7 linked regions of the Homo sapiens genome follow. The protein of the gene in region 1 interacts with the protein of each later gene in a biochemical or structural test. Each region holds a gene or a part of one and is shown in the gene's direction. Other genes may lie near its edges. The genes, in order: MED1, POU1F1, NCOA6, HNF4A, ESR2, GABPA and RARA.

Evidence for each region.
Region 2: the proteins of MED1 (region 1) and POU1F1 form a complex in vitro, tested with the Homo sapiens proteins (one study listed by BioGRID).
Region 3: the proteins of MED1 (region 1) and NCOA6 form a complex in vitro, tested with the Homo sapiens proteins (one study listed by BioGRID).
Region 4: the proteins of MED1 (region 1) and HNF4A form a complex in vitro, tested with the Homo sapiens proteins (2 studies listed by BioGRID).
Region 5: the proteins of MED1 (region 1) and ESR2 form a complex in vitro, tested with the Homo sapiens proteins (2 studies listed by BioGRID).
Region 6: the proteins of MED1 (region 1) and GABPA form a complex in vitro, tested with the Homo sapiens proteins (one study listed by BioGRID).
Region 7: the proteins of MED1 (region 1) and RARA are reported together in a solved structure, tested with the Homo sapiens proteins (2 studies listed by BioGRID, with this or other methods).

Annotation. Positions count from the first base shown.
Region 1 is NC_000017.11:39,409,207-39,413,486, reverse strand, and holds part of MED1 (mediator of RNA polymerase II transcription subunit 1), read left to right. Parts: intron 1-2,765; coding exon 2,766-4,280. UniProt on the Homo sapiens protein: Component of the Mediator complex, a coactivator involved in the regulated transcription of nearly all RNA polymerase II-dependent genes.
Region 2 is NC_000003.12:87,273,729-87,278,495, reverse strand, and holds the start of POU1F1 (pituitary-specific positive transcription factor 1), read left to right. Parts: upstream 1-1,911; 5' UTR 1,912-2,033; coding exon 2,034-2,175; intron 2,176-4,767. UniProt on the Homo sapiens protein: Transcription factor involved in the specification of the lactotrope, somatotrope, and thyrotrope phenotypes in the developing anterior pituitary. Specifically binds to the consensus sequence 5'-TAAAT-3'. Activates growth hormone and prolactin genes.
Region 3 is NC_000020.11:34,818,869-34,823,148, reverse strand, and holds part of NCOA6 (nuclear receptor coactivator 6), read left to right. Parts: intron 1-1,509; exon of another isoform or gene 1,510-3,847; intron 3,848-4,280. UniProt on the Homo sapiens protein: Nuclear receptor coactivator that directly binds nuclear receptors and stimulates the transcriptional activities in a hormone-dependent fashion. Coactivates expression in an agonist- and AF2-dependent manner.
Region 4 is NC_000020.11:44,361,838-44,366,117, forward strand, and holds part of HNF4A (hepatocyte nuclear factor 4-alpha), read left to right. Parts: intron 1-4,280. UniProt on the Homo sapiens protein: Transcriptional regulator which controls the expression of hepatic genes during the transition of endodermal cells to hepatic progenitor cells, facilitating the recruitment of RNA pol II to the promoters of target genes. Activates the transcription of CYP2C38.
Region 5 is NC_000014.9:64,280,394-64,284,673, reverse strand, and holds part of ESR2 (estrogen receptor beta), read left to right. Parts: intron 1-1,598; 5' UTR 1,599-1,688; coding exon 1,689-2,050; intron 2,051-4,280.
Region 6 is NC_000021.9:25,761,869-25,766,148, forward strand, and holds part of GABPA (GA-binding protein alpha chain), read left to right. Parts: intron 1-443; coding exon 444-497; intron 498-770; exon of another isoform or gene 771-1,513; intron 1,514-2,341; coding exon 2,342-2,482; intron 2,483-2,726; coding exon 2,727-2,919; intron 2,920-4,280.
Region 7 is NC_000017.11:40,311,571-40,315,850, forward strand, and holds part of RARA (retinoic acid receptor alpha), read left to right. Parts: intron 1-3,622; exon of another isoform or gene 3,623-4,280. UniProt on the Homo sapiens protein: Receptor for retinoic acid. Retinoic acid receptors bind as heterodimers to their target response elements in response to their ligands, all-trans or 9-cis retinoic acid, and regulate gene expression in various biological processes.

The DNA of each region.
Region 1 (4,280 bases):
AGTTCGAGACCAGCCTGGCCAACATGTTGAGATGTCATCTCTATAAAAATACGAAAATTAACCGAGCATGGTGGTATCCGTCTGTCATTCTAGCTACTTGAGAGGCTGAGGCAGGAGAATCACTTGAACCTGGGAATCGGAGGTTGCGGTGAGCCAAGATTGCGCCACTGTTCTTTAGCCTGGGTGATAGAGTGAGATTCTGTCTCAAAACAAACAAACTAACTAAATAAATAAAAATATAAAAATTAGCCAGGTGTGGTGGCAGGTGCCTATAATCCCAGCTACTCAGGAGGCTGAGGCGGGAGAATTGCTTGAACCTGGGAGGCGGAGGCTGCAGTGAGCCGAGATTGTGCCACTCCACTCCAGCCTGGTAGACAGAGCAAGATGCCATCTCAAAACAAACAAAAAGCCAACTTAATTGTTACGTGATAGTTAAGCCAGTATGCATCCCAGAACCATTAATATGTAATTTTTTGAGATTTTTCTACAGCTGGGTCTGGCAGCCTATTTTTGTAAATAAATTTTATTGGAACACTGCTGTTCATTTACATGTCTGTGGCAGATTTCTAGTTAATATTGCAGAGTAGGTGAACAGGAAACAAGACCTACAAAGCCTAACGGATTACTATATGGCCTTATAAGAAAAATTTGCGGCCGGGTGCGGGGGTCACCCCTGTAATCCTAGCACTTTGGGAGGCTGAGGCGGGTAAATCACGAGGTCAGGAGTTCAAGACCAGCCTGGCCAAGATGGTGAAACCCCATCTCTACTAAAAATACAAAAATTAGCTGGGCGTGGTGGCGGGCTTCTGTAATCCCAGCTACTTGGGAGGCTGAGGCAGAGAATTGCTTGAACCTGGGAGGCGGAAGTTGCGGTAAGCCAAGATCATGCCACTGCACTCCAGCCTGGATAACAGAGCGAGACTCTGTCTCAAAGAAAAAAAAAAAAAAAAAAAGAAAAATTTGCTGGCTGGGTGTGGTGGCTCACGCCTATAATCCCAGCACTTTGGGAGGTGGGTGGATCGCCTGAGGTCAGGAGTTCGAGACCAGCCTGACTGACATGGAGAAACCCTGTCTCTACTAAAAATACAGAATTAGCTGGGCGTGATGGCGCATGGCTGTAATCCCAGCTACTCGAGAGGCTGAGGCAGGAGAATCACTTGAACCTGGGAGGTGGAGGTTGCAGTGAGCCAAGATCGCGCCATTGCACTCCAGCCTGGGCAACAAGAGCAAAACTCCGTCTCAAAAAAAAAAAAAAAAAGAAAAAAAAATTTGCTGACATATGTTCTAGAGCAAAACGTTTGCAAACTGAGGTTTATGAATATAAATTTATCTGGAAAATAAAAAGTGCTTTGCTTTAAAATAAACAAGATTTATAACAGAAATAGCACTTTTTATAATAGTGTAGGTTTGGGATGATCTAAGTCATTAAGGTTTAGTACTTAATGGGTCAAGAGATTTTTCTTTTCTTTTTTTTTTTTTTGAGATGGAGTCTTGTACTGTCACCTGGGCTGGAGTGCCATGGCACAATCTCAGCTCACTGCAACCTCTGCTTCCCGGGTTCAAGCAATTCTGCCTCAGCCTCCCAAGTAGTTGGGATTACAGGCACCTGCCACCATGCCCAGCTAATTTTTTGTATTTTTTCTTTTTTTTAGTAGAGATGGGGTTTCACTATGTTGGCCAGGCTGGTCTCAAAACTCCTGACCCTGTGATCCACCCGCCTCGGCCTCCCAAAGTGCTGGGATTACAGGCGTGAGCCACTCTGACCGGCGGAGATTTTTCTAATGGTTCCTTAATTAAAATAAATTATGTATCCCTGTAATTACCATATGAAGCCCCCCAGAGGACGACATTTTCTTTTTTCCTTTGAAATGAAGTCTTGCACTGTCACCAAGGCTGGCGTGCAATGGGACGATCTTGGCTCGCTGCGATCTCTGCCTCCTGGGTTCAAGTGATTCTCCTGTCTACCCTTCCTGAGTAGCTGGGATTACAGCTGTGCACCGCCACGGCTGGCTAATTTTTTGTATTTTTAGTAGAGACAGGGTTTCACCCCGCTGGCCAGGCTGGTCTCAAACTCCTGACCCGAAGTGATCCACCCTCCTCGGCCTTCCAAAGTGCTGGGATTGCAGGAGTGAGCCACCGCGCCCGACCTAAGGAGGCATTTTTTTTTTTGAGACGGAGTCTCACTCTGTTGCCAAGCTGGAGTGCAGTGGTGTGATCTCAGTGCAATGCAACCTCCGCCTCCCTTGTTCAAGCAATTCTCCTGCCTCAACCTCCCGAGTAGCTGGGATTACAGGCACGCGCCACCACGCCCAGCTAATTTTTGTATTTTTAGTAGAGACGGGGTTTCACCATGTTGGCCAGGATGGTGTCGATCTCCTGACCTCATGTTCCAGCCGCCTTGGCCTCCCAAAGTGCTGGGATTACAGGCGTGAGCCACTGTGCCCGGCCCCTAAGGAGGCATTTTCTTACTGAGTTCCATTATTACCAATTTTCTTTTAGTTAAGTTTGAAATTCAATTATTTGGACTCTTGTTTATAGTTTGCTTTTGTTGTGTGATTCATAAGAGGTTGACAATTTTATGTTGGGTTAGATTTTTAGAATGTATTTACCCAAAGCTCTGGTATTTGATAGAACTATTTTTGTCTTACAGATTATTTGCCCTACCTGAAAACTGCTTACTGCAAAACTCTGATGTTATATCTAAATCTCAGGTCTCATTCAGCAGCTATTGCAATGTTAACTTTGTTTTCTTCTTTATTTTGCAGATGTATGTCCATCCCTGTGACGATGAGGGCTATTCGGAGGAAAGCTGAAACCATTCAAGCCGACACCCCAGCACTGTCCCTCATTGCAGAGACAGTTGAAGACATGGTGAAAAAGAACCTGCCCCCGGCTAGCAGCCCAGGGTATGGCATGACCACAGGCAACAACCCAATGAGTGGTACCACTACACCAACCAACACCTTTCCGGGGGGTCCCATTACCACCTTGTTTAATATGAGCATGAGCATCAAAGATCGGCATGAGTCGGTGGGCCATGGGGAGGACTTCAGCAAGGTGTCTCAGAACCCAATTCTTACCAGTTTGTTGCAAATCACAGGGAACGGGGGGTCTACCATTGGCTCGAGTCCGACCCCTCCTCATCACACGCCGCCACCTGTCTCTTCGATGGCCGGCAACACCAAGAACCACCCGATGCTCATGAACCTTCTTAAAGATAATCCTGCCCAGGATTTCTCAACCCTTTATGGAAGCAGCCCTTTAGAAAGGCAGAACTCCTCTTCCGGCTCACCCCGCATGGAAATATGCTCGGGGAGCAACAAGACCAAGAAAAAGAAGTCATCAAGATTACCACCTGAGAAACCAAAGCACCAGACTGAAGATGACTTTCAGAGGGAGCTATTTTCAATGGATGTTGACTCACAGAACCCTATCTTTGATGTCAACATGACAGCTGACACGCTGGATACGCCACACATCACTCCAGCTCCAAGCCAGTGTAGCACTCCCCCAACAACTTACCCACAACCAGTACCTCACCCCCAACCCAGTATTCAAAGGATGGTCCGACTATCCAGTTCAGACAGCATTGGCCCAGATGTAACTGACATCCTTTCAGACATTGCAGAAGAAGCTTCTAAACTTCCCAGCACTAGTGATGATTGCCCAGCCATTGGCACCCCTCTTCGAGATTCTTCAAGCTCTGGGCATTCTCAGAGTACCCTGTTTGACTCTGATGTCTTTCAAACTAACAATAATGAAAATCCATACACTGATCCAGCTGATCTTATTGCAGATGCTGCTGGAAGCCCCAGTAGTGACTCTCCTACCAATCATTTTTTTCATGATGGAGTAGATTTCAATCCTGATTTATTGAACAGCCAGAGCCAAAGTGGTTTTGGAGAAGAATATTTTGATGAAAGCAGCCAAAGTGGGGATAATGATGATTTCAAAGGATTTGCATCTCAGGCACTAAATACTTTGGGGGTGCCAATGCTTGGAGGTGATAATGGGGAGACCAAGTTTAAGGGCAATAACCAAGCCGACACAGTTGATTTCAGTATTATTTCAGTAGCCGGCAAAGCTTTAGCTCCTGCAGATCTTATGGAGCATCACAGTGGTAGTCAGGGTCCTTTACTGACCACTGGGGACTTAGGGAAAGAAAAGACTCAAAAGAGGGTAAAGGAAGGCAATGGCACCAGTAATAGTACTCTCTCGGGGCCCGGATTAGACAGCAAACCAGGGAAGCGCAGTCGGACCCCTTCTAATGATGGGAAAAG
Region 2 (4,767 bases), on another chromosome or scaffold:
TTAGTAATTCTACTTCTAAGAATCTATCTTAAAGGGGTACATTCCAGATAATCCTATAGATATATTGTATCGTAGAAGACTGTAATGGAAACATTTATTTCCTGGCTTTACCTCATTTTAACAGAACAGGTGTTTAATTTTTAAAAATGATTATGGAAGAAATTCTACGATTGCAATTTAAAACTTTTTAGATATCATGGTAAATAACTGGGAAAATTTTATATTGTTTGCTAGGCAGGTTTTATGGTACTTCATAAAGTATCTTCAGTATACTTCATAAAGTATATTTTTCACATACTTTACCAACATATTCCAATGACTTTATATAACAATAGTAAAATTATTAAGGGACATTTTCAAATTACATTTTCTATAAATATCATTTAGCTTAATTTTTAACATACATGATACCCAATAAACACACTTTTATTTAATTTTCTTAACAGAAACTCCAAATAGACATACTGAAAATCACCTTTTTGTATATGTGAAGTCTGAAAATGATCAGAATTCTGCAAGGGTATAATAATGCTTTTGATTACTTGAAACTTTCTCTCATTAGAAAAGACTAATAAAGCTTCAAAGATATAGAATTCAGAATGAAAAAATATGTCATTTTTAGAATAAATATTTTCATTCCATATCTAATGATTTAGGCAAGCTTTTACATATTTTCCTTCAAAATATCAGCTGCTTACTGACAAAGTGTTCAAGTTTTTGAAAATGTCTTATCAATATTAACATGAAATTTGATACAAAGCAACCAATTCCAAATTATCTTAAAACATTCCGTAGTACAAAATTAGTGTCTACTCACATCAATAATATCTATTCCTGTTCGCTTACTTCTATTTGCTATATTACCTTAATATACAATACATAAATAGTATTTTATTTACTCATTACATACTCATAAATCATGATCATTGTAAAGTTTTGATGCTGTTATTTATCTTTGAAATAGTTGGCTGTAGCATATTATTTTTTTCATTCTCATATAAAGTCAATATATTTTGTGTGAGAAGTTTGCATCTAGTTAGCAACTACCATGGTTATCTCAGGCTTTGTGGCACAGAGTCTAGCTTAGTGAGAATGGCAAGGTACATAACTCACATAGATGTTGTGAGATTTGCATGACGTAACTGTATAAATACCTAGAATACTGTCAGCATCTAGTAACAGCTTACTAAATATTGGGTTCTTGAGTGAATTGAAATCGAGGTAAAGATAACAATTACCCATATCTTAGTTGTATTTAACTTTGGTGCAGTAGTGGTTGCGGTTCTTGCCATTAATGCAATCACTTTTGCACCAACCTATCATTACTACATTTTATCCAATTTTTTTCCATTTTTCACTTATAATATAGTAAAACTTATATTGGTTGTCATCGTTTTTAAAAGCTGTGCATTTTTGAGTATGAATCATTAATTGACAACATATTTTCTCATGTTTAGTATTATATGCTTCTCTCATAATCTTAAATATTGTTTCTTAAAATTATGTATAATACTATGCACTTCTTTTGTTTCATGTTTTATCGCAGATTTAATGAGAAGTTGTTTAAAAAAATCTCATATTTATACATTTGCAATTGTGTTAGTAGCAAAAAGATACCTACTATTTTTCAATTGATTGTGGCATTATTTTTTTGAGGGACGTGTTTTCAAAATTGTTGATTCCTCTCTAAAAGGTCTGAACTACTGAAGTTGTCAAATAAGGTTTCAGATTTCTCCCTTCCCCTCCATCTATACCCCAGAATCAGCTTCCTTCTCTGCCATGGATTATGTTTGGGGTAAAAAAGGAAGACGGTTCAGATTGATAAAGCAATACTCCTGGGAAAAGACTATTAACATGTATAAAGGGATTTCCTTGCAGTATAAATACTAGCGCGCACCCTCCTGGTGCCTCAGAGCCTTCCTGATGTATATATGCAGGTAGTGAGAATTGAATCGGCCCTTTGAGACAGTAATATAATAAAACTCTGATTTGGGGAGCAGCGGTTCTCCTTATTTTTCTACTCTCTTGTGGGAATGAGTTGCCAAGCTTTTACTTCGGCTGATACCTTTATACCTCTGAATTCTGACGCCTCTGCAACTCTGCCTCTGATAATGCATCACAGTGCTGCCGAGTGTCTACCAGTCTCCAACCATGCCACCAATGTGATGTCTACAGGTACTGACTCCTATGACAGTTTACATATGACCGGGCCTAAATATTTCAGAATGAATGCTTTGAATCTTGATAGTTAATAATCTCTTTGCATCTTTCATTTTACCCCTCCAATTTAATTTGTCTTAAGTGAAGTAAGCATTAAGCATATCTAAAAAGCCAACATGCCAAATAAATTTTAAAGAAATATTAGTAAGTGTAGTAATTTAAAATCACTGTTGGCTTTGTTGTAAGGAAGAAAATCTGTTTTCTACATAAGAAAAGAATGAACTTGGACATTTTAAATCTAAAAACCTTTTTAATGGAAATATTTATAGAATAAGGAGCAAATGAAATGAATATTATAAAATAACAATATTTAAAAGGTGCTACTTCTTTATCTTAAAGGTTTATTCGGTTGTTAAATTACATTTACTATCTAAAAACAGCTATAAACCTTATATTAAACACAACAGAACAATCTGAATATCAACAACAATGGATTTCATAGAATAAAATAGAGTTTTAATTAACATATTTTAGCATAAGATACAGAAATTATAGCAAGAAATAACATGACATTTAAAGCCCATTAACTAAGGTAAATTTTCTCAAAATTGCATTCTGAAGAGACTTACTTCACTTCTAAGTTTTAACATTTATCTCACATAACTTTTTAGAACAAAAATTAAACCTAAGAATTCACAGGCTCAACACAATCAGCCAAATACATATGTTTTGCCAGTGTGTTCATTCTTTATGCAGTAACAAAGTGTTTTAGAGTTGATTTACAAATGGAGAAAGACTTGAATTGGGTAAATTTCTTCCATTGAATAGCAATATAATATTCACTTTCCACTTGTTTTAAATGCAATTTTTCTCATATTTAGGAATGAAATTATATACATTTAGAAATCAAAGTTTGAGTTGATACATTATTCTGATTTGAAGGATTTAAGCTCTATCTTTTGTTATTATTAAGCATTTTCTAAATACATGCGTAAGTTTGGCACCAATCTTCTGGTGGATTTTAAAGAATCTAGAGGTCAGATATTTAGACTTTGGTAAAATCATTTAATGTAGAGATTTTTCAATATTACCTTTTAAATTAAATTTCAGGAATCCGCCAAAGATTTCTGTAATTTAATTTAAAGGGTAATACAGGAAGTATCCTCCAACATAATTTTTGGAAGACACAATAGTTTTTATCAAAAATATATGCTATAAATAAATCTAAGCAATTACCACATAGCTAATCACATATTTTAAATAGTAGGTCATCCTATAGATTGAGAATAATGAGAATAATACACTATTTCTGTGTTTGAAGATAATTTGGCCAGCATGAAAATACAATTCAGAATCGAGGTAATAATCTAGTAAAATCTAATTTTATACTCAAAATGCCATTTATTTACTTTAAAATAAGTAACAATTTATTTAGTAAATTAGCCTATCCTGTATTTAACTTCCTAAAATCTGAAAAGCAAAAATTATTTAAGCCTTAAAATTAAAAAAGAATTATAATTAATAAAAGTGACCTACAAATGTTTTAAATGATAATAGCATTGATTTATAATTTTTTAATGAAATTTGAATCATATACATCTAATTGTCTAAGGAACTATTATAGAAACACTGACTTTAATGGGAACACTTGAGTATTAAATATGTTTAATGATAATTTGCTTAATTTTGGAATGCACAGTAATGCATTATATGTAATCATTATATTGCAAAATGACTTTAGTTCTTTTGAGCTATTAATTATAAAATAAAAATGTATACAGATTTTTAAAAATTAAAGATTTTTCTCTATTTTAAAATAATTTATTTTACTTTATGAAGAAAGGCATGTCTTTAATCACTAGTTTGTATATTGGTATTCTCAAAGGATTCTAACCATACTTTATAATATCTCATTTATTCAAGAAAATTAATTTATGAAAATTAACCAATATATTCAGAATATGAAGGAAAAAATTGAGAAAATAAAATATATAAGGAAATATTGGTTTTATTGTCAATATTTTGTGCTCCCTATCAACTTGATGATTTGTGTTTAAAACTTGATAAAAGTCTAATAATTCCAGTTTACTTCCAAAATACACATTGATTTCCTGAAGCATATAACCATTTATGAACGGTTATGTTTATGTACGGCTTTATGGCTTTATGGATATTAAGTCACTCAATGAATGAACTCATTTTTTGACCAGCTTTATCATTAGAATGGTTGTATCAATTGTGTATATGCAGACAACTAACAACCTCATGGTTTCAACATCAAAATAAATAGATCATATATTGTTACAGGTTTTTAATAGCACTCTGAATGCAGTGAGATTTTTATGATTGTATCTAATAAAAGGCTACTTGCTCTGCCATTTCCACTTTGATGAAACAAATTTGTTAGACAAATAAGCAAAAATACGCTGTTCAAGAGTGAATTTCTGTATTCATTCATACAGACTGCTTTATAATACCATGCAACACAAGAATTTTAAAGGACTATTCTTCTAGTCGGCGAGTTGCAATGTCTGCATTGAACAGAACCAACAAGCATTCTGCAACTCCCAAAGGGCCAAGGTCTAAATTGGTCAGTCACCCCTTCAC
Region 3 (4,280 bases), on another chromosome or scaffold:
AAAGTACATTGAATTATAAGGAACACCAATTATATTAAAATACAGTTTCCAAAATATACAAATCTAATATGCATATACTTGTTTATCAGCACGTTAAGAAATCAGATTTAGTGATGGATCCGATAATTATAATTTCAAAGACATGATGCGCATAAAGGCTACTTCAAGATTATATGCAACAATTGTAGTATGATATAAAGATATTTGAGATTTCTGTTGTTACAGAGTCACAGAACTGCTAATACTAGAATGGTATGTTACCTACACTCATATTTGAATAGAATGGTAATTTTCAGTTAAAAGTTAGTAAAAGAGATTTTTTTCTCCCTGTCCAAGTTCACAAGCCCCACTGAAGTCCTATCTATAGACTCCTGTCTATGAACCCCAGGTTAAGAAACCCTACTCCTACTGCCAGGCATGTCTTCCATTCAGCAAACGTTTACTGTGCCTCAAGGCATCTACTGCATATCAAGCATTATACTGGGCTCTGTAGCTTCAGAAGTTTTTAAGGCAGAGTCACTTCACTTTGGGTATGCAGCCCCATGAGTGAAGTAGACATGTGAACAATCATAGTTCAGGATGGTCGATGCCAAAGAAGAGTTATTAAACGCTATAAGGACACGGAGATGGGTGTGTCTGCTCAAAGAATCAGGGAAGGTGTTGCGAAGGGGTGACATTTGAGATGTGTCCTAAAAGATACAGGAATTTGCCAGTGAAATGGAGAGAAGGGCCTTTCAGGTAAAGACACGTTTTCAGGGAATGTATTAATAACTGAATGTGGCTGGAGCATAGAATGTGTGTGAAAGCATGGCCAGAGATGAGACTAGGAAGACCATGTTAGGAACCTGGTTGTGAAGGACCTTGCTAAGGAGTTTGGACTGAATCCTTAGCTGAGAGAGGCATTCAAGATCTTCGAGAAGGGGAGTATGTGGTGGAGGTTTAATTTCTAGGAGATAAATGGATGTTCTTTGGAAGGAGGGTAGACTGAAGACCAGAGAGGTAATGAGGATCTGAACTAAGGCAGAGACTGTGGGCACTGAGCAGAGTTAGAAGTAATGAGGATCTGAACTAAGGCAGAGACTGTGGGCACTGAGCAGAGTTAGAAGTAATGAGGATCTGAACTAAGGCAGAGGCTGTGGGCATTGAGTGGAGTTAGAATTTGCAGGTGTTGATTATTGACATTGTGAGTGGCTTAGGGGGAGTTTTTTAAATTTCTGGTTTGGGGTGGTGTCTGTCAAAGAGGTTTAAAAAAGTGAAAGGAAGTCTGGGCGTGTTGGCTCACGCCTGTAATCCCAGCACTTTGGGAGGCCGAGGCGGGCGGATCACGAGGTCAGGAGATCGAGACCATCCTGGCTAACATGGTGAAACCCCATCTCTACTAAAAATACAAAAAATTAGCCGGGCGTGGTGGCGGGCGCCTGTAGTCGCAGCTACTCGGGAGGCTGAGGCAGGAGAATGGTGTGAACCCGGGAGGCGGAGCTTGCAGTGAGCCGAGATCGCACCACTGCACTCCAGCCCAGGCAACAGAGCGTGACTCCGTCTCAAAAAAAAAAAAAAAAGTGAAAGGAAAATGAGGGGAGAATTCTCATTGATAATAAGGGCGAAAAGGTTTTTTTGGCAGAGTAATAGAGTTTTGGAAACCATTGCAAAGCTGTCAAGTGTGGTGTAGTTTTTGGTTAAGGAAATCAGAGGTGTCAGCAGACATAAAAGACAGGGGAAAACATGGGAAGTGTCCTACCTATAGTGTAGAAAAAGCACAACTATCTATGTCAGAGGTCGACAGACTGTGGTCCATAGGTCAAATCTGGCCCACGATCTGTTTTTGTAAATAACGTTTTATTGGAACATAGCCACACTCATTTATTTATATATTGTCCATATCTTCTTTTGTGGTACCAATAGCAGAGTTGAGTAGTCGTGACAGAGATGTGTTGTGTCAGCTCACAAAGCTGGAAATACTCTTTACAAAAACATTTGCCAACCCCTGATCTATGTGTTTGAGTGTTGGATGTTCAACCTCTAATTTGCCATCCAATGTCTATATGATGATAGAGAATGAATAAACGTCTTGGCTCTGCCCTTTGGGCTGGATTACCCATGCTCTGTGTACCTGCAGCATAACACAGACCCCTGAATATTTATATCAGTCAGTGATGGCAAGGTCTATTGTTCTGGAGTGTACTGTGTGGTAACTGTGGTAGTGCCAGCTTTACACGGATTAGATAATGCTCGGGCTTGTTTTGCCATTTTTTTTATTGGGTTGTCTTTTACAAAAGATTTATTTATATATTCTGATTATTAATCCTTTGTTGTTGGTAGATATTACAGATGTCATTTCCCAGTTTCTTGCTTATTTTAATTTTTTTTTTTTTTTTTTTGAGATGAAGTCTTGCTCTGTCGCCCAGGCTGGAGTGCAGTCGTGCCATCTCAGCTCATTGTAACCTCCGTCTCCCAGGTTCAAGTGATTCTCTTGCCTCAGCCTCCCAAGTAGCTGGGACTACAGGCATGTGCCACCACACCTGGCTGATTTTTGTGTTTTTAGTAGGGATGGGGTTTCATCATGTTGGCCAGGCTGGTCTCAAACTCCTGACCTCAAGTGATCCACCCGTCTTGGCCTCCTAAAGTGCTGGGATTACAGGTGTGAGCCACTGCGCCTGGCCTGTTGCTTATTTTAAAACATCTGTTTTAAGGTGTCATTTGTTAAAAAGTTCTGAATTTTAGTATCAACTTTATCAATCTTTTCCTTTAAGATTTGCAGTTATTCTTTGTTTTGAGGCAGGGTCTCGCTCTGTCACCGAGGCTGGAGTGCAGTGGTGCGATCTCGGCTCACTGCAGCCTCAACCTCCTGGGCTCAAGCAACCCTCCCACCTCCCATGCCAGTTGAGACCACAGGCATGCGCCACCATGCCCTGCTACTTTTTGCATTTTTTGTAGAGGCGGGGTTTCGCCATGTTGCCCAGGCTAGTCTGGAACTCCTGAGCTCAAGCAGTCCACAAAGTGCTGGGATTACAGGTGTGAGCTACTGTGCCCAGCCTGCAATTATTCTTTATATTCTGGAATACCTACTGTTGTTTTCAATGGTTAGATCTTTAATGTATCTGGAATGGATTCTTATGTGTAGTGTAAGGTCGGGTCCAGTTTCATTTTTTTTCCCTATGTATAACCAGTGATCCCAGCATCATTTATTGAATGGGGCTTGCTTTCAAATTGTGAGCTCTTTTTGGTGGAGTCTGTCTCAGGTCCTTATTAAGCACTGCTGCTTGCTGATTGTGTGACCTTGGACAAATAAAACCTCATTGCGCCTCAGTCTTTAAGGATAATAGTAATCTCATAGGGTTTTGTGAGGATTAAATGAGTCAATATACATAACGTGTAAAACAGTGCTTGGCACCTAGAACATGCTCAATAAATATTAGCTGTACTTTAGCACTACTGTTCATTTCTGATTCCTCAGCACCTGGTACAGAGCAGGGGCTCATTTTGCTCAATTAAATTGCCAAATTAATTTGGTTTTCAGGTCAATCAGAATGGTGAGAGTTGGGCTGAGTGTTGCAGGAGATGCTTCCAAGGAGCTACTTAGTTTTAGGGGCTGCCTTAGATTATCTGCTAGGATAGAACTCTTCTCACGCCATCACTTTTGCAGAGAACTTCTGTAGCAGAGGTTGCAAACTGGCAACCTGTGGTTGGATTTGACCTGTATAAGTATTTTGTTTGGTTTACACAATATTTTTAATGTCTTAAAAATGTACACAGACCTCTGAGTTTCTGACTTAACCTTGAAAAATTGGAAGATCTGTCAACAGCAAGCCCATATTCATTTATAGCGGTAACCAGCTGAAACTTTTAGGTGAGATGTGTTTCCTAGTTCTCCATAGTCTGCCTTGCTGTCTTGCTTTGCTCTTTATTTTTATGGCCCTGCAGACATTTAATTTTCTGATTCTTACTTTATTGAGGTATTGAATATTGTCTCCCCCAAACCAGTAAATGACATATTGGGATGGTGGGGGGGATGGCCAGAAATTGACAGATGAGTTTGTGGGCAAGTAAATACTAAAACCTATTTCTAAGGATGAGCCATACTTGATCATAATGAATAGAATGATAAATGAAATTAAAAGATGAGGTGAAATTCAGCTTAGCTCCTTGAATATTTAGGCATCTACTATGTATTAAGTACTGTATTAGAAATTACCACATTGGTGATAGAAAATTAGCTGGCCAGCTTTATGAAATACTGTAGAAGAACTCTTTTTACTTGTATTGTGGAGCTGTTGTCTAAG
Region 4 (4,280 bases), on another chromosome or scaffold:
GAGGGACTTAGGAGAAGGGGAAGGGGTCACAGACTTCTTGACCTTGGAGGAGTAGACTGATATCTAAGCTGGAACCTCGGTTTAGCAGGAGTCAGCCGGGAGAAGAGACGGTGGGGAAGAGTGTTCCCAGCTGAGGGAACAGCATATGAAAAGGCCTGGAGCCTGGCCACACACTGCTCTGATTTTACTTATATTTGACTGCAATTAATTCCATCCTTTACTGAAAGTATCTTGAGACTTGTCTGGTTGTTTCATGATTGATTAATCTTATTCCTAAAAGCATGCTGAGGCTGGGCATGGTGGCTTATTGTGGATTACACGCCTGTAATCCCAGCACTTTGGGAGGCTAAGGCGGGTGGATCACTTGAGGTCAGGAGTTCCAGACCAGCCTAGTCAACATGGTGAAACCCTGTCTCTACTAAGCATACAAAAATTAGCTGGACGTGGTGCCAGGCGCCTGTAATCCCAGCTACTCGGGAGGCTGAGGCAGGAGAATCACTTGAACGCAGGTGGTGGAGGTTGCAGTGAGCCGAGGTTGTACCACTGCACTCCAACCTGGGCAACAGAGGGAAACTTGTCTTAAAAAAAAAAAAAAAAAAAAAAAGCATGCTGAGATGCTTAAGTGAAGGAATTGTGCCTTCCATTTTTCCTGACTCATATGCCTGTAGCATAAGGATGGGTCAATGATAACGAAAGGAATTTGTTTTCATTTAAGCCCCTTTTATGTAATGGGCAAGATGTTGGCTATTTGATATGTTTTCTCCCTTTTAAGCCTTGCAATAACCCATCCAAGTAGGAAATATTATCTCCATTTTATAAACAAAGAAATTGAGATTCAGAGTTGTTAAGTCACGTTTCCCTGCATCGCCTTGCAAATAGGTGATTAAAATCTAGTCTGACACCAAATCTTCATTCTTTCAGCTATTATGTCATAATAGCATCCAAGGAGTTTACCACCTTCTACCACCTACTAGCTGTGTGACCTTGAGTGAATGACTCAATTCTCTTTTTTTTTTTTTTTTGAGACGGAGTCTTGCTCTGCTGCCCAGGCTGGAGTGCAATGGTATGATCCTGGCTCACTGCAACCTCTGCCTCCTGGGTTCAAACAATTCTCCTGCCTCAGCCTCCTGAGTAGCTGGGATTGTAGCTGGGGTTACAAGCGCCTGCCACCATGCCTGGCTAATTTTTTTTTATTTTTAGTAGAGATGGGGTTTCACCATGTTCGCCAGGCTAGTTTTGAACTCCTGACCTCAAGTGATCTGCCCGCCTCGGCCTCCCAAAGTGCTGGGATTACAGGCCTGAGCCACTGCGCCCGGCCGACCCAATCTTTTTTGCCTCAGTTTCCTCATCTGTCAAATGGGGTTGATGATAATACCATTTACTTCACAGGGTTGTTGTGAGACATAAAGTCAATATTTGTAAAGTGCTGAGTGTCTAGCACATAGAAAGTGCTATGTGAATTTGAACGATTATTATTATTATACCTATAGTGTGTGCATCTACTATATGCAAAGGACTGGATGCTTACTAGGTGTTAGCATCATTTTGGCTGTTGTAGAAACAACAGAGATGAGTAAGGAATAGATAACTGGTCCCAGGATGCAACTGTCTCTGGCTGGAGACTAAGGACAAGGCTTTGTTGCAAGCCTTCTGGGGCCCTGGGATGCCCAGGGTCTCCTCTTGGGGGTGCTGGTTCATAGATGGGGGCCTGTGTGGCTCCTTCACAGAGGAGGAGGCAGATGAGAGGCATAGAAAGGGAGGGGACAGACCTATCCTCATCAGAGACCTGGGAGATGGCTCTGGCCCTGGCCCTGGGTAGCTGTTTGTGACCTCACTCAAGTCCTTCTCCTGCTGTTTCTCCATCTACTCTTTTTTTTTTTTTTTTTTTTTTGAGACAGAGTCTCAATGTCACCCAGTGGCTCTATCTCTGCTCACTGTAACCTCCACCTCCTGGGTTCAAGCAATTCTCATGCCTCAGCCTCCCAAGTAGCTGGGATTGCACGTGTGTGCCACCACACCTGACAAATTTTTGTAGTCTTGGTAGAGATGGGTTTCACCATGTTGGCTAGGCTGGACTCCTGGCCTCTTGTGATCCTCCCACCTCGGCCTCCCAAAGTGCTGGGATTACAGGTGTAAGCCACAGCACCCAGCCTCCATTTCCTCTTTTGAGAAATGGAGGTATGACAACCATCTGGCTCAGCCATTGTCACACAGTATTCCCTGGGTCCTAAGAGTCAGGAAAGATGCTGCAGGGTTCCCTTTGAGGGTAATGTGGGTAGGGACGTGTTCAAATGGACTAGGGCTTAGCCTCTCCCCACCCTTCAACCTCTGGCTCCATCAGAGACACTTCTTTTTGACTTTTGTATATTTCTTTTTATTTTATTTTAGAGACAGGGGTCTCGCTATGTTGCCCAGGCTAGCCTCAAACTCCTGGGCTCAAGCAATCCTCCCGCCTCAGCCTCCCAGCCCCTGGGATTACCTGCTCATGCCACTGCACCCGGCACTCTGTTTTGACTTTTAAATGAAATATTTAATGGAGGGTCTCCACAGTTCAAAAATATTTGGAAAATCAGAAGACCACACCAGTGTGTTTCAAACTGCAATCTTAACCCAGGAATAGGTCATGCAATTTTTTTTTTATTTTTTTTTTCTAGATGGAGTCTTGCTCTGTCACCCAGGCTGGAGTGCAGCGGCACGATCTTGGCTCACTGCAACCTCCGCCTCCTGGGTTCAAGCAATTCTCTGCCTCAGCTTCCTGAGTAGCTGGGATTACAGGTGCCCACCACCGCGGCCAGCTACTTTTTGTATTTTTACTAGAGACGGACTTTCACCATCTTGGCCAGGCTGGTCTTGAACTCCTGACCTCGTGATCCACCTGCCCCGACCTCCCAAAGTGCTGGGGTTACAGGTGTGAGCCACCGTGCCCAGCCGGTCCTTCAATTTATTGGGATTATATTAGTTCAGACAATATAGCTTATGTAACAAGCAAATGCAGACTTTAAGTTAGAAGTTTATTGACCTCTGTGGCATAGTCATCCAGGGACCCCTAAGGTCACCCTAGCCCAGAAAGACACTTTCACTTCTACTCACATTCCATTGGTGAGAACTAGTCACATGGCCCTTGCCAAATGCAAGGGGGTCTGGAAGATGTGGTCCCTAGCGGGGCGGGACTAGCTGTAAAGTTTGTAAAGGGGAGCGTGAATTAGTTGGTACACAGTTGATCGTCTGTGCAGTAGGGTCATGCTCACACGTCCCTCCACACACACACGTTAAATATGTATAACAAGTGTAAATATACAATTTAAAAAAGTATCTTTTTTTTTTGGTTTGTTTTTGTTTTGTTGTTGTTTTTGAAACAGGGTCTTGCTCTGTCATGTGGGCTACAGTGAGCCACAATCATGGTTCACTGCAGCCTCAACCTCCCAAGCTCAAGCAATCCTTCCATCTAAGCCTCCCAAGTAGCTGGGACCACAGGTGCATGCCACCATGCCCAGCTAATTTTTTATTTTTATTTTTTTGTAGTGACAGGTCTTGCTGTGTTGCACAGGCTGGTTTCCTACTCCTGTCCTCAATCTTCCTGCATCAGCCTCCCAAAATGCCGGGATTACAGGTGTGAGCTACTGCACCTGGCCTTTACAATTTTTTACATAAAATGTTTCAATAAAAAAGTGCATAGATAGATACAGAGATAGCAATAAAGCAAATGTGACAGAATGCAACCAGTTGGTGAATTTAGGCGAAGGGATACATCAGTGCTCACTATACTAGTCTTTCAAACTTTAAAGTTTGAAATTTTTCAAAGTAAAATATTGGAGAAAATGAAATTCTTAAAATTTACTAGACCTATAAGTAGACTAAAACAATAAGTTATAACTAAAGTAAGATTTGGCCGGACGCCGTGGCTCATGCCTGTAATCCCAGCACTTTGGGAGGCTGAGGTGGGTGAATCACTTGACCCCAGGAGTTCAAGACCAGCCTGGGCAATATGGCAAAAACCCACCTCTACAAAAAACACAAAAATTAGCTGGGCCTGGTGGTACACGCCTGTAGTCCCACCTACTCGGGAGGCTGAGGCAAGAGGATTGCTTGAGCCCAAGAGGTGAAGGTTGCTGTGAGCCGAGATTACAACACCACACTCCAGCCTGGGTGACACAGCGTAATCCTAGTGCTTTGGGAGGTCAAGGCAGAAAAATTGCCACCACACCTGGACTTAAAAAATATTTTTACTGAAGTATAACATTCAAAACAGAAAAAGGCACAAATCATCAATGTATCGCTTT
Region 5 (4,280 bases), on another chromosome or scaffold:
AAAGAAAGTGATGAATTACCCCTCAGATATTGTATTAATTGTCTATTACTGTGGCCGGGCATGGTAGCTCATGCCTGTAATCCCAGCACTTTGGGAGGCCGAAACAGGCAGATCACTTGAGGTCAGGAGTTCGAGACCAGCCTGGCCAACACGGTGAAACCCTGTCTCTACTAAAAATACAAAAATTAGTGTGGTGGTGTATGCCTGTAATCCCAGCTACTCAGGAGGCTGAGACATGATAATTGCTTGAACCTGGGAGGCAGAGATTGCAGTGAGCTGATATGGCGCCATTGCACTCCAGCCTAGGCAACAAGAGTGAAACTCCATCTCAAAAAAAAAGATTTGCCTGTAATCAGCCAGCACCCCCAGCCTTGTGCTCACTTTACATACAAAAATTCTGTTTTTTAGAGCATAAATTGAAGGGCACATTCAAAACTGATACGTAGGCCAGGCATGGTGACTTATGCCTGTAATCCCAGCACTTTGGGAGACCGAGGCAGGTGGATCACTCGAGATCAGGAGTTTGAGACCAGCCTGGCCAACGTGGTGAAACCCCATCCCTACTAAAAAATACAACAAATTAGCCAGTCACAGTGGTGCGCACCCATAGTCTCAGCTACTCGTGAGGCTGAGGCAGGAGAATCACTAGAACCTGGGAGGCAGGAGGTTGCAGTGAGCCGAGATCATGCCACTGCACTCCAGCCTGGGTGACAGAGTGAGACCTTGTCTCAAAAACAAAGACAAAACCAAAACAAAACAAAACTGAGAAGCAACAGATTGATAAGTGACACAGTTACACTGGTCAGTCTCTTCAGCTAATACCCATTGTTTTTTATTATTGGAGATTCATAATGTGTTTTCTTTCTTTTAAAAACTTTTTTCGGAAATGGTAATTTCTCTCTTTTTTTTTTTTTTTTTTTTTTTTTGAGACAGGGTCTCACTCTATCACCCAGGCTGGAGCGCGGTGGCACAATCTCTGCTCACTACAACCTCTGCCTCCTGGGCTTGAGCAATCACACCTCAGCCTCTTGAGTAGCTGGGACAACAGGCACATGCCACCATTCCTGGCTAATTTTTAGTAGAGACGGGGTTTCACCATGTTGCCCAGGCTGGTCTCGAACTCCTGACCTCAAGTAATCTGCCCACCTCAGCCTCCCAAAGTATTGGGATTACAGGCGTGAGCCACTACGCTTGGCCTCATAGCGTATTTTAATATTGGTTGAGACTAGCCTTGCTCATTGATCTTCTCTTAGCGTTTACTTGGTTATTCTTGCTTATTTTTCCATAAGAACTTTCATTTTTATTTAATCCTGTGTTTTTTGGTTTTAAAGACTATTTTATAATAAATTTTCGTGATTAAACTCTTGTGCTTAAACTCTTGATTAAACAAACAAGCAATGAAGAGATGAATGAAGCAGAAAATGTGAGTTTCATGCCTCACATTCCCACTCCTCTGAGGTTAATATTTTCATGTATATTTTTCAGGATGTATTTGTAATCTCATACAAACGTATGTATTTTTTTAATGAAAATATTTAAATTTTCATAGTTAACAGCTGTAGCTCTAACTTGGCAATATCTTCTGTGTTTCTTTACAGCCATTATACTTGCCCACGAATCTTTGAGAACATTATAATGACCTTTGTGCCTCTTCTTGCAAGGTGTTTTCTCAGCTGTTATCTCAAGACATGGATATAAAAAACTCACCATCTAGCCTTAATTCTCCTTCCTCCTACAACTGCAGTCAATCCATCTTACCCCTGGAGCACGGCTCCATATACATACCTTCCTCCTATGTAGACAGCCACCATGAATATCCAGCCATGACATTCTATAGCCCTGCTGTGATGAATTACAGCATTCCCAGCAATGTCACTAACTTGGAAGGTGGGCCTGGTCGGCAGACCACAAGCCCAAATGTGTTGTGGCCAACACCTGGGCACCTTTCTCCTTTAGTGGTCCATCGCCAGTTATCACATCTGTATGCGGAACCTCAAAAGAGTCCCTGGTGTGAAGCAAGATCGCTAGAACACACCTTACCTGTAAACAGGTAAGTCCAGTCTTCATTCTGAATTATAGTTGCTAGCCATTTCTCAAATCACTTTATGGTTGAGTGAGAAGGAAATAATATGTTAGACAAGGTCTTTATTGTATTAATTACATAGTTTACTTACAGCACCCAAAACACAGGATGCCCTGTTCTATTCTGATATTTTAGTTCTCATTAAAAACTGGTATGTGTACATCAGTGTTGTGGGGAGAATTTGCTATCATGACTATTGTCTTTATACAGTAAATACTGAACTTAAGTCACTCCTTTTCTTTTTTTGAGACAGGGTCTCGCTCTGTCACTCAGACTGGAGTATAATGGCACGATTGCGGCTCACTGCAACCTTCACCTCCTGGGTTCAAGCAATTCTCGTGCCTTAGTCTCCCGAGTAGCTGGGATTACAGGCGCGTGCCACCACGCCCAGCTCATTTTTTAAATTTTTAGTAGAGACAGGGTTTCACCATGTTGGCTAGGCTGGTCTTGAACTCCTGACCTCAAATGATCCACCTGCCTTGGCCTCCCAAAGTGCTGGGATTACAGACGTGATGAACACTGTGCCTGGTCTGAACTTAAGTCACTCTTAATGGAGTTATTTGGATTTGAAAAATGAATTTTTACTTTACTTTCAGTTTCAAAGTCTTCTTATAGTGAAACCACAATTTAATGTTCATGACAAATTGTTTCCAGGATAAAAGTAACTGTGATAGTATTACAACTTAAATGAAATTCTAGACATGCGAAGCATGAAAAGATAGATGATTGGTATAAGCTTTTTAACCATGAACTAAAATAATAACATTATATAAAGATTGGTGGAAACTATTGAAGTTTAGGCTTCAGTTGACATTCCCTGAAGTTAAAAAGGATATGTGTACTCTTTAAATGCAAGGTAACATAATGGATTATTTCCATCTAATTATTAATATTTCTAATGATAATCATAGGTATGAAGGGAATGGATAGTATAATGAGAAAGGAGAGGGGGAGATAAAAATCTAAAAGTACTAAGGGCATGTTGGATATTGAAATTCACTACTTTCAAATATTATCATAAAACTTTGAGACAGTAACATTGCACCATTATTTTTCTTCTTTTAAAAACATTTTACTCATTGGTAAAGAGAATATAAACATTGTGGATAACTTTTTTAAAGTAATGGTTTGTTTTTTTTTTCTCCTTCCTCCTTTAAAGGAAGACATATTTTGTTTCTGAGCATGAATTATAATCAAAGTTCTGCTAATTTTTGGGCAAATTAATCCATTATATAATTACCTTCATTTATAAATCAATAATACCTTTACCATTCCCTTTCCAAAAGAACCATGCCTGGCAACATCAGGAACTAGCCAGATGTGTTTTGGAGGCTGCCTGGGGATCCCTTGTTAGACTTTTCGTTCCTTTATGAACCTCTTGCCTGTGGTCCAGCATTGAGCCTCTGCTTCCTTCCAAGCCTTTCCAGGCCAGGCACTTGCTTGTTCTCTCTCTTCTCTTCTCTCTTCTTTTTTCTCTCTCCCTTTCTCTTCTCTTCCCCCTTTTTCTTGTCTCACATTCATCTCAAGGTAACTTAAAGTCCATTTGTTATTCCTCTTAAAGTTATTTTTATTTTATTTTTTTGAGATGGAGTCTCACTCTGTTGCCCAGGCTGGAGTGCAGTGGCACAGTCTTGGCTCACTGCAACCTCTGCCTCCCGGGTTCAAGCAATCTCCTGCTTCATCCTCCAAAGTAGCTGGGATTACAGGTGTGCACCACCATGTCTGGCTAATTTTTGTATTTTTAGTAGAGATAGGGTTTCACCTTGTTGGCCAAGCTGGTCTCGAACTTCTGGCCTCAGGTGATACGCCCACCTTGGCTCCCCAATGTGCTAGGATTACAGGCATGAACCATTGCGCCCAACCTGAAAGTTATTTTAAATCTAGACCTTTATCTGAAATTGCAGAGTGTGAGATGTTTGTTCTCCATTTAAATGGGAACTTCAAATGTCTGAAGGGCTGCTTAGCAATGCTGTTGGGAATGACTGATGTTTGGAAGTGGTTGAATGCCTTCACACCCATCCATGCAGCATTCGTGAACTCTAGTAACTACAGAAGACCAATGCATATCCTGCCTGTGGTTCAGACCTGTGGGTAAGATTTGATCTGGCCACTCCTTTCATTACACTTAGAGATGTAGCTCCCACCCCATGGCTATGACTGGTCTTCGGCAGTGACAAATGCTCATCAGCATCACGTG
Region 6 (4,280 bases), on another chromosome or scaffold:
AGCAGCTTTAGTCAAAAGTGGATGTTATAACAAATAATGGGAAGGAGGCCTTTTTGGTGGAGATACGTACCTAAATAATTTAATTTTGGTGTATATTTTATCTTTGATCTGATCTTGAAGATTTCCATATTTTTACATGGCTTTATGTGGATTTCAATACAAATGTTTACATTTAGAAAACCATAGTTCTCTGCAGAACTTTACTGAACACTAAAAGACATTGGAGCTTTTCCCTGTGTTATTTCTCTTAAGGTATCTTTTCCTTTTAAAGTGACTATCAAATATTTTTAAGGTTTTTATGCCAGTAAGTTTCAGTTCAGTGTTTTGGTTTTAATTGTGGAGTTCTTTTTAAAAGAACCATGTTTATTAAGTTGAGTTTTATTGGATTGGGGTTTTTATATTTTTGGTTTTAAATAAAAACAAAAAATTTTTGTTTTTTTCAGATGTATTGGCAAGTCAAGAACAACAGATGAATGAAATAGTTACAATTGATCAACGTGAGTATTTGTACCTATATTTGCCCTTTTATTAATAAGAAATGTTTATTTGATACCGCAAGGTAATAAAAAGGAAAATTATTTAAAAAAATTTTTTTTCTACACACAAAATATCTTTTGTTCTGTGGAATGAAAGCTCGACACAAGTACTTTATAAGATCCACTCATGTGTTTTTAAATGATACGATTAACATAACAGCTTGCTTTGTATCTCAGTTCACCAAAATTTGTTAGGACATCATTTGTTTCATCTTTACTGACTGTTAATTACCAAGTTGTAAGAACAATTCTAACCACATTCATACCTGACAGAACTTTCATGCCTGATAATAACTGGATATTAGGTAGCATCCAATTGAAATATCAGTATAGGTTGGATACAGCAGAGAAAATATTCAAGTGTCCAAAACAAACTTGAGGAGTTACAATGGGTTTGAAATGAAGAAAAAAGGCCAAGTTAAAATAGGAAAACAAATAGTTTTCATTTGGTGGGAGTTGCAATCAAAGTATACAGTTGTATACATTCTAATGGATCATCTGTCCCATGTGGCATTTTCCAAGGCTTGAAGAGTCTACCAGGGCAAACCCTTCGCCGCCTCCACTACTTTTGCTTGGCTTTTCCCCTTTCTTTTCTCTCGCTTTGCCTTCAGCTTTATTCTTTACCTTTGATTCATCTATATTGGGTACTGTACTTGCTAGAAGTACAGTCTAGAAGAGTCTTTTTGTTTCTCTTAATATCCATCTCCATTTTCATGTCATCTTTTCCATCTTTTACCTCATGTTGCATTTTCTCTTGGCATGTTTGGGTTTGGGTACCACCACAGTTGCTGTCTCTTAAACATCTTTCATTAAAACATTACTGTCTAGTTTGAGAATACTTTTAAGCCTGCTGAGCTCTTTTGGGGCATTTTTCCCCCCTTTTCAGCATGCATCTTTCTTTTCCGCTTATGCCATAAGCTTTTAGCTATGTTTTACCTGAGGTACGAACACACACGTCACAAGATCATCCCAACCGGCTAAAATTTTTAATGAGGAATTTGAGATACACAAAGAAAGTATAACTAACACCTGTGTACATCATTAGAAATAAAATTTTTTACACCAAGTATACCTGTTGTAGGTTTCATTTTCCTCTCTCCTACCAGAGAACTATCTTGAATTTTATGTTTATTACTGTCTGCATATTTTATATTTTTACCAACTATGTAATCGTAAACACTGTATAGCATTGTTTTCCACATGTTTAAACATTGTTTGTAAAATAATACATTGTACATATTATTTTATAACTTTTTTATCATTTGAGAATTACTCATGTTGATACTTGCAGCTGTTTCATTCATTTTCACTGCTGTATCTTTTAAATGCTGTGAAAACATCATTGAATGAATATTTGTAAGAACATGTGTGAGATGTTCGTGTCATAGGGTTTCTATCCTTTCAGCCTTACTCCAGATATTGCCAGATTCTCAAAGTGGTGGTGTGAATTCTCATTTGTCCACATTTAGTACAATATATTTGACAAACCGTTTTTATGAACAAATGTTTTAAGAACAAACATGTTTAAATACTCTTTGTCTAATGTGTATGCATCACTAAGTTATTTCCAAACAAGAATACTAGCTCTTACTAAGATGCACAAACTATAATGCAAGCGTTATACTTTACCATCTGAACTTTTTTGTTATTTTGTTTGAAATTGTGGATTGAGGCTTTCTGTAGTGAAGTACTTTCTTGGGGGTAATTCATAGGGCATTAGTTAAAGTGATAATGTCTTTCAGTAATTTTTTTTTTTTCCTGCTTGTATTGGAAGAAAAAAAATTTCTCCTTGTCTGTCTTTGCAGCTGTGCAAATTATTCCAGCATCAGTGCAATCTGCTACACCTACTACCATTAAAGTTATAAATAGTAGTGCGAAAGCAGCCAAAGTACAAAGAGCGCCGAGGATTTCAGGAGAAGATAGAAGCTCACCTGGGAACAGAACAGGTATTTTTGTATTTTCTTGTATTTATAAAATATATCTATCTAATTAGGTATATTTTGTTGTATTTTACTGTATGAAAAATGTGAATTTGGACTATCCCTCTGGCAGTTTTTAGACAGCATTTCTAGAAAAACAAAAATTGTTTTTGCCATGGCTGAGATTTAAACCACGGGACCAGTTTGTTGTCTTTGCCTTGGGCTAATCTATAACACTATAGCTAATGCTTTGTTCCTCTTACCAATTTAGGAAACAATGGCCAAATCCAACTATGGCAGTTTTTGCTAGAACTTCTTACTGATAAGGACGCTCGAGACTGCATTTCTTGGGTTGGTGATGAAGGTGAATTTAAGCTAAATCAGCCTGAACTGGTTGCACAGAAATGGGGACAGCGTAAAAATAAGCCTACGATGAACTATGAGAAACTCAGTCGTGCATTAAGGTAAGCCTTTATTACTTTTTTTTCTGTTATCAAAAATAGAAACTTTCTAAAAAATAGTTTCTTATTCTAGATGTAATAAGCATTGTTATGTAATGATATTAAAAACTTGTTTATGTTTTTTTCTTTACATATTAAAAAACCTTTTTAAAAAGATCTTAATAATTTCGAGGTACAGTTTTTTTTTTACAAAATTACTCTAAGATTGTTTGTTTTTATCTGATTTGAAAGCTATAATACTCTGTCCCAAAAAAAAATGTTTAATTTTTGAGGTTTTTATTATTTGCATAGATGAATTGAGTGTTAGTTTTTAATGAGTAAGCAGAAACTGTCCTCTGTTTTTACAATTACAAGCAGAATATTGACCCATTTTCTACACAATCTGCCTAAATCTGGATATCCAATCTTTACATTGATACAAACTCTCCGTAAGTAGTATAAGGTTTTTTGACAGAAATTACTATCAGAAATTATGCCTACTACAGTGATGGAAATTCAACAGGTACATTTAAGTATCTGAGAAGAAGGATATATAAGAATATCACGGAATTATGTCTGATTTTTTGGGAGATTGAATATAGTAAAATAGTTCTGCAATTCACGAGTTTTTCTAAATAGCATGCTTTTACTGCTTCTTCATGTTTCACTTGGCCATTTTCACACTGAAAGATTATAATTTAGCTCACACACACACACTCTCCCTTCCCCTTTCCATCCCTTCATCTCAGTATCCCAATATAATTATATGGAAATTTTGGTTCAGCGAGTATTCATTGTTACAGTATTACGGCCATGTAACTATTATTACATAGTTGGCTGTGATTATTTTTCTTTTCCTGAATGACCCTTTTTTTCTCAGAGTTCATGAGTAACTAAAATGTTTAGTTTTCAAAATGCTTATCCTTTACCATTCAGTCTCAAACACATTGCCAACTGTCTAAAGATTCTTCGTTTATAATCATAATTAAAGCTGCCATTTTTGAGAGTTGATACAGATTGTATACATACAAGTCCCCTCAAAATTACAGGTAAATTGTTAGAGTTAATAATTAAGATGTCAGTTCCCCCCCAGATTGATCTAAGTTTCAGTGCAGCAACTTAGTTTAATTTGAAAAATCAAACTAAGTTTTTCATAGAACTTGAGAAGATAATTGTAAAATTTACATGGGACTATAAAGTACCATGGTAGTCAGGACACCTGAAGATTAGCAAAGTGGAAAGACTTGTCCCACAGGATATTGAGACTGACTCTAAAGTTACAGTAATAAGACAGTTATGCTATTTTCTCAAGACAAATAGGCCATACAGTAGAATAGGGAGCCAAAATAGAACCAGGAATATGTAAGCATTTGATTTAAAGAAAT
Region 7 (4,280 bases), 900 kb from region 1:
TTTGGCCAGTAGGTCACATCTGGGAGCTTCTGGGGGTGCCACATGTCTGCCTCAATCTGGGCTGTTTCCTCCCCTCCAAGATATTTCACTGTCTCTGGGCTGGGCGCCAGGACTCCTGGGTTTCCCTGCCTGTGGTGCAGGGCTCCCCTGCAGGGCTCCAGAGAGTCGCTTAGCTGGTTTCCTTCCTCCTTTGTGGGGAGGGCCTTCCCCTAGGGCTGGGAGGTGTCAGGAATCCCAGGTGGGACAGGGGTGGGGGCACAGTAGCCTCTGGCACTGTAGCACCCCAGCTTCTCCCTCCTAGCCTCTGACTCAGCTTGGGGGCAGCACATGCCCAGCCTGGCAGGCATGGCCTATTCTTGCCTCCAGGCTTCTCTCTTTACAGAAGCCTACATCTCCTGCTCTCATTTTTTAGTTTTTTTCCCCATGATATCTGCAGGTGGCTAGTGAAATCCCTGGTTTTGGGGAGCAAGGGACTAACATAATTGAGGCTGGGGCACTATTTTGTCTTCCCTCCAGTTGGGCCAGGATGAAGGAGACTGTCACAAACTTCCCCAAGCCAATTCCTTCTGCCCTCAAAAGACCAGTCAGTGGAGCCAGGCCCTGCCCTTTGGGTGCCCACAATGTGGTTGGCACTGATTTGTCAGAAATTGGGAAGGTTTCCCTCTAGACCGCTTGCCTCCTTTCTCCTCCTCCCGCAGGGTAGGGGCAGCTCTGTGATTGCAGGCACTTATGGGCAGGCCTCCCCCTAGGAAAGGGGTGTGGGATGCCCCCAGGATGGCCAAGTTGGCGCTAGCCCCAGGCTGGAGTGCTGGACATGATTCTGACCTGGGAGTTAGTGGGGGTAAGGCAGGGCATGGGCCTCCCTGCCCCCCTCATTTCCTGCTCTTTGGGCAGCTGTGGGCGAGAAAGGCTGCAGGGACTATTTTTAGTTGGTCAGTCCCCTGGCAGGAGGGACGTGCAGAAAAGCACGGGGCAGGCAGAGGGGCTGGCCAAGGTGAGGGTAAGCAGGCAGGCAGAGGAGTGAGGAAGGGCCAGAGGGGCAGAAGACAGCAAGGAGGCATGGGGAGCAGGGGCAGGACCTTACCCAGAGGGGCATGACCCAGGTAGATGGGCCGGGCTGGACTGGGTGGAAGAGTCCTGGCACCCTACAGGGTTTTCTTTATCCAGCTGGACTCAGAGCTGGAAGGGGTTTTAGAGGCTACCTAGGCAATCCCTTCCCCTTGCAGAGAAGGAAACTGAGGCCTAGAGAGAACACTCAATCAGTCATTGGCTGTGTTGAGACCTGAACCCAGGCCCTCCCTTTGCACCATTTTTCTGTTGTCATGGTTCCTCACCACAGCTCAGTGTGCTTCCCTTCCCTACTGCAGCAAGGAGGACCACGAGCCAGGCACACCTGGTCCATTTTCCCATCTGCTTTTTTGTGCAGGGTCTCTGAAAATCCCAGCTTGGTTTGTTTATAAGTCTCCATGTGGAAAGAGTCTGTGTCCAGGCTAGAAGGAGGTCAGAGTTGGGTTTGTTTGGGTGGCCTGTGGCCACTGGTGTGAATGGAGCTGCTGGACAGGCTCCAGCAGGCTCACAGGCTGGTGAGCTGTGGGGCTAGGAGACACCTTACAGAAGGGACGTCCAGACTCCCCAGAGCCCTTTGTGAGCCCTCCTCCTGCCCTGCCCAGGACCTGTGGGTCATGGTGGTTGTTTGCCCATCTCCCCAACAAAAGAAGGGAGCAGGGCTGAGGAGTGGGGAGATTACTACTGGCTTCTGATCGCTAGTCAGAAGGAGGCCCCCTCTGAGGCCTGGAGGCAGGGAAAGTTGGGGCAAGTTGGGGTGTGTATGGGGAGAAAACTCAATGGAGAATTGTGGTCCCTCAGAATTCAGTCTGCTTTCTGTCTTCTGCCTCAGGCTCTCCCCACAGGCCACCATGCTGCACAGCTGCAGGGGGAACCATTCCATAGACTATGATGTGAATGGCACCCCCTGGGGTTGTTCAAGGCCCTGCCTGTGTAGCCACACGTGGTGCATCTGTCTCCCACCTTCTTCCTTCAAATTAGTTCAGACCCACCTGGAAGGAGGTGTTCCAGACAGGCCTTAATCCAACACCCTCTCCCCTACCCTGCCTCATGCCACTCAACATCTCCTATTCCTCTGCTGCCCACCCCCAACGCACCAAGCAAGTCATGGTGCACCACCAATTGTGGTTCAGAAGCCCCTCCCCTTCTCTCTACGCAGTTTCTGTGTCTCTTGGGGGCTGATTTATCATACCCCCCATCAAGCCTACTGCAGTGTGTGAGAAATCAATAGTGCAAATGGATTGAGGCTGTTTAGCCTGTCAACTCTCCTTGGGCCCCACCAACTCTTCTGGGACTTGCGGAGTTGCTCAGTCCCCTTCTGGCTCAACATACACATATTTAGTGGTTGTAGCCAGAGCACTGAGCACAGGAATTATTCTTTCTGTTGGTCTCTGTCTCATTCTCTCTCATATACTAGGCTGGTCTTAACATGACAAATACTCTTGAACATTTATTTTCTAGCTTGGGTGGACGGGCTTAAAGGGCAGTAGGCTGCCAGCCAGAGGTAGGGAGGGAGGCAGGTGGGTGAGGGATATGGCGGGTGGAGGGGTGGGGTGGGGGTGGGGACGAGCTGGGGAAGGGATTGGGTGACAGCCCACCCCATCAGCTCTGGTAACTCAATCCCTGCACCCCACCCTCCCAATTTCCCTCCTGCTCAACAACTTCAGCAGCTGCTGGCAGAAGCAAGGCTGGCAGAAGTGTGTTTGAGTGCATGTGTATATGAGGGGAGAGGGTGAGAGGGGCTGTGGGGGCAGGGAGTGCTGCCAGGACATGTTAAAGGAGACTCACAGCCTGGGTACAACTTGGGTGGCAGGAGGAGGTGGGGCAGGTGGGAGAGTGGGTGGTGAGTGATGGGCAGGCTGCAGTGGGGGCAGGGCAGCACAGGGGTCTCACAAAACTTGTTGGCACTGGAGCGGGGCCTGGTGTGGTGGGGGTGGGCAGTGGTGAGGGGGCAGGGGCTGGCACAGACATTGCTGGCCCCAGAATGCTGAGGCCCATTCTTTGCCAGGGGGCGCATGTAACCATGGAGGGACAGTCTGCCCCTGTCTGCAATCCTTGGGCTGTGCCTGCTGGGCATCACAGTCTTGGTGGTGACTAAGTCACTTCTGTCCTGGGGCTGGCAAGGTGCCAGGCTCAGCTCTTCTCGGTAGGTGAGTCACTGCCCTGGCATCTCCCCCGGATGCAGCTGAGTCACCCAGCCATGCCTGCTAGGCAGGTGGGCACCAGGCTTGTGGTGGGGGTGGAGGGCTATGTGTGCAGCCCCCAGTGTCTTCTCTGATCTCTCTCTGGCATGTCCTGGCCCCACCCATAAACCTGCAGAGCCAGGCAAGGATGGCGCTTCTCCCTTGTGATCCACTAAGGGGTGAAGGAAAAGGTAGCAGGGCACAGAGTGGAGTCATACATGTTTGATTTGGAGTAAGTAGGGGAGGAAAGAGTTGAGGAGGGAACATTGATTGGGTTATATGTATATATATATATATATATATGCTTATATGTGTATATATATATATATATATATATATATATATATATATATACACACACACACACACACACACACGTATATATTTATTTATTTTAACAAAAAAGACACAGGGTCTTGCTATGTTGCCCAGACAGGTCTTGAACTCCTGGAGTCAAGCAACTCCTGGCGTCCCATCTTGGCCTCCCAAAGTGCTAGAATTAAAGGTGTGAGCCACCATACCTGGCCTGGGTTTGAATCCCAGCCCTGCCATTGACAAGCTGTATGACGTTGAGGAAGGCAATTTTCTTTTTGAGCCTCAGTTTTTTCATCTCTACAATGGCAACAGGAGCCTGCCCCTTCAGGACTGTGAGAATCAAATGGAGTGGGACTATTAAGGTACTTGTGGGAGGAGCTCCTTTTGGGATGAGCTAGGAGGCTTGGGAGGGGAAGAGGAGTCAGCTGGAGCTGGTTCCAACAAACTCCCGCACCATGGTCTTGGAGGGCCAATTGCTTCTCATCATCTCTTCGGAGTATCACTTAATGCTGTTCTTCAGGAGTTTCCACAGGCTGTGAGAAGACAGCCTTGTTGTACTAGAAGTGTGGGCCCTCCTAGGGTGTCTCAGAGCTATATTTTATCTCTTTTGACTACTGAGAACTGCCACTGGCCCTGGTACCTGTCCAGACTCTCTTCCTTCACTTCCTCTAGTTTGAAGAGGGATGGGGCTCAGACTCCTCCCCCAGCCTATCTCCT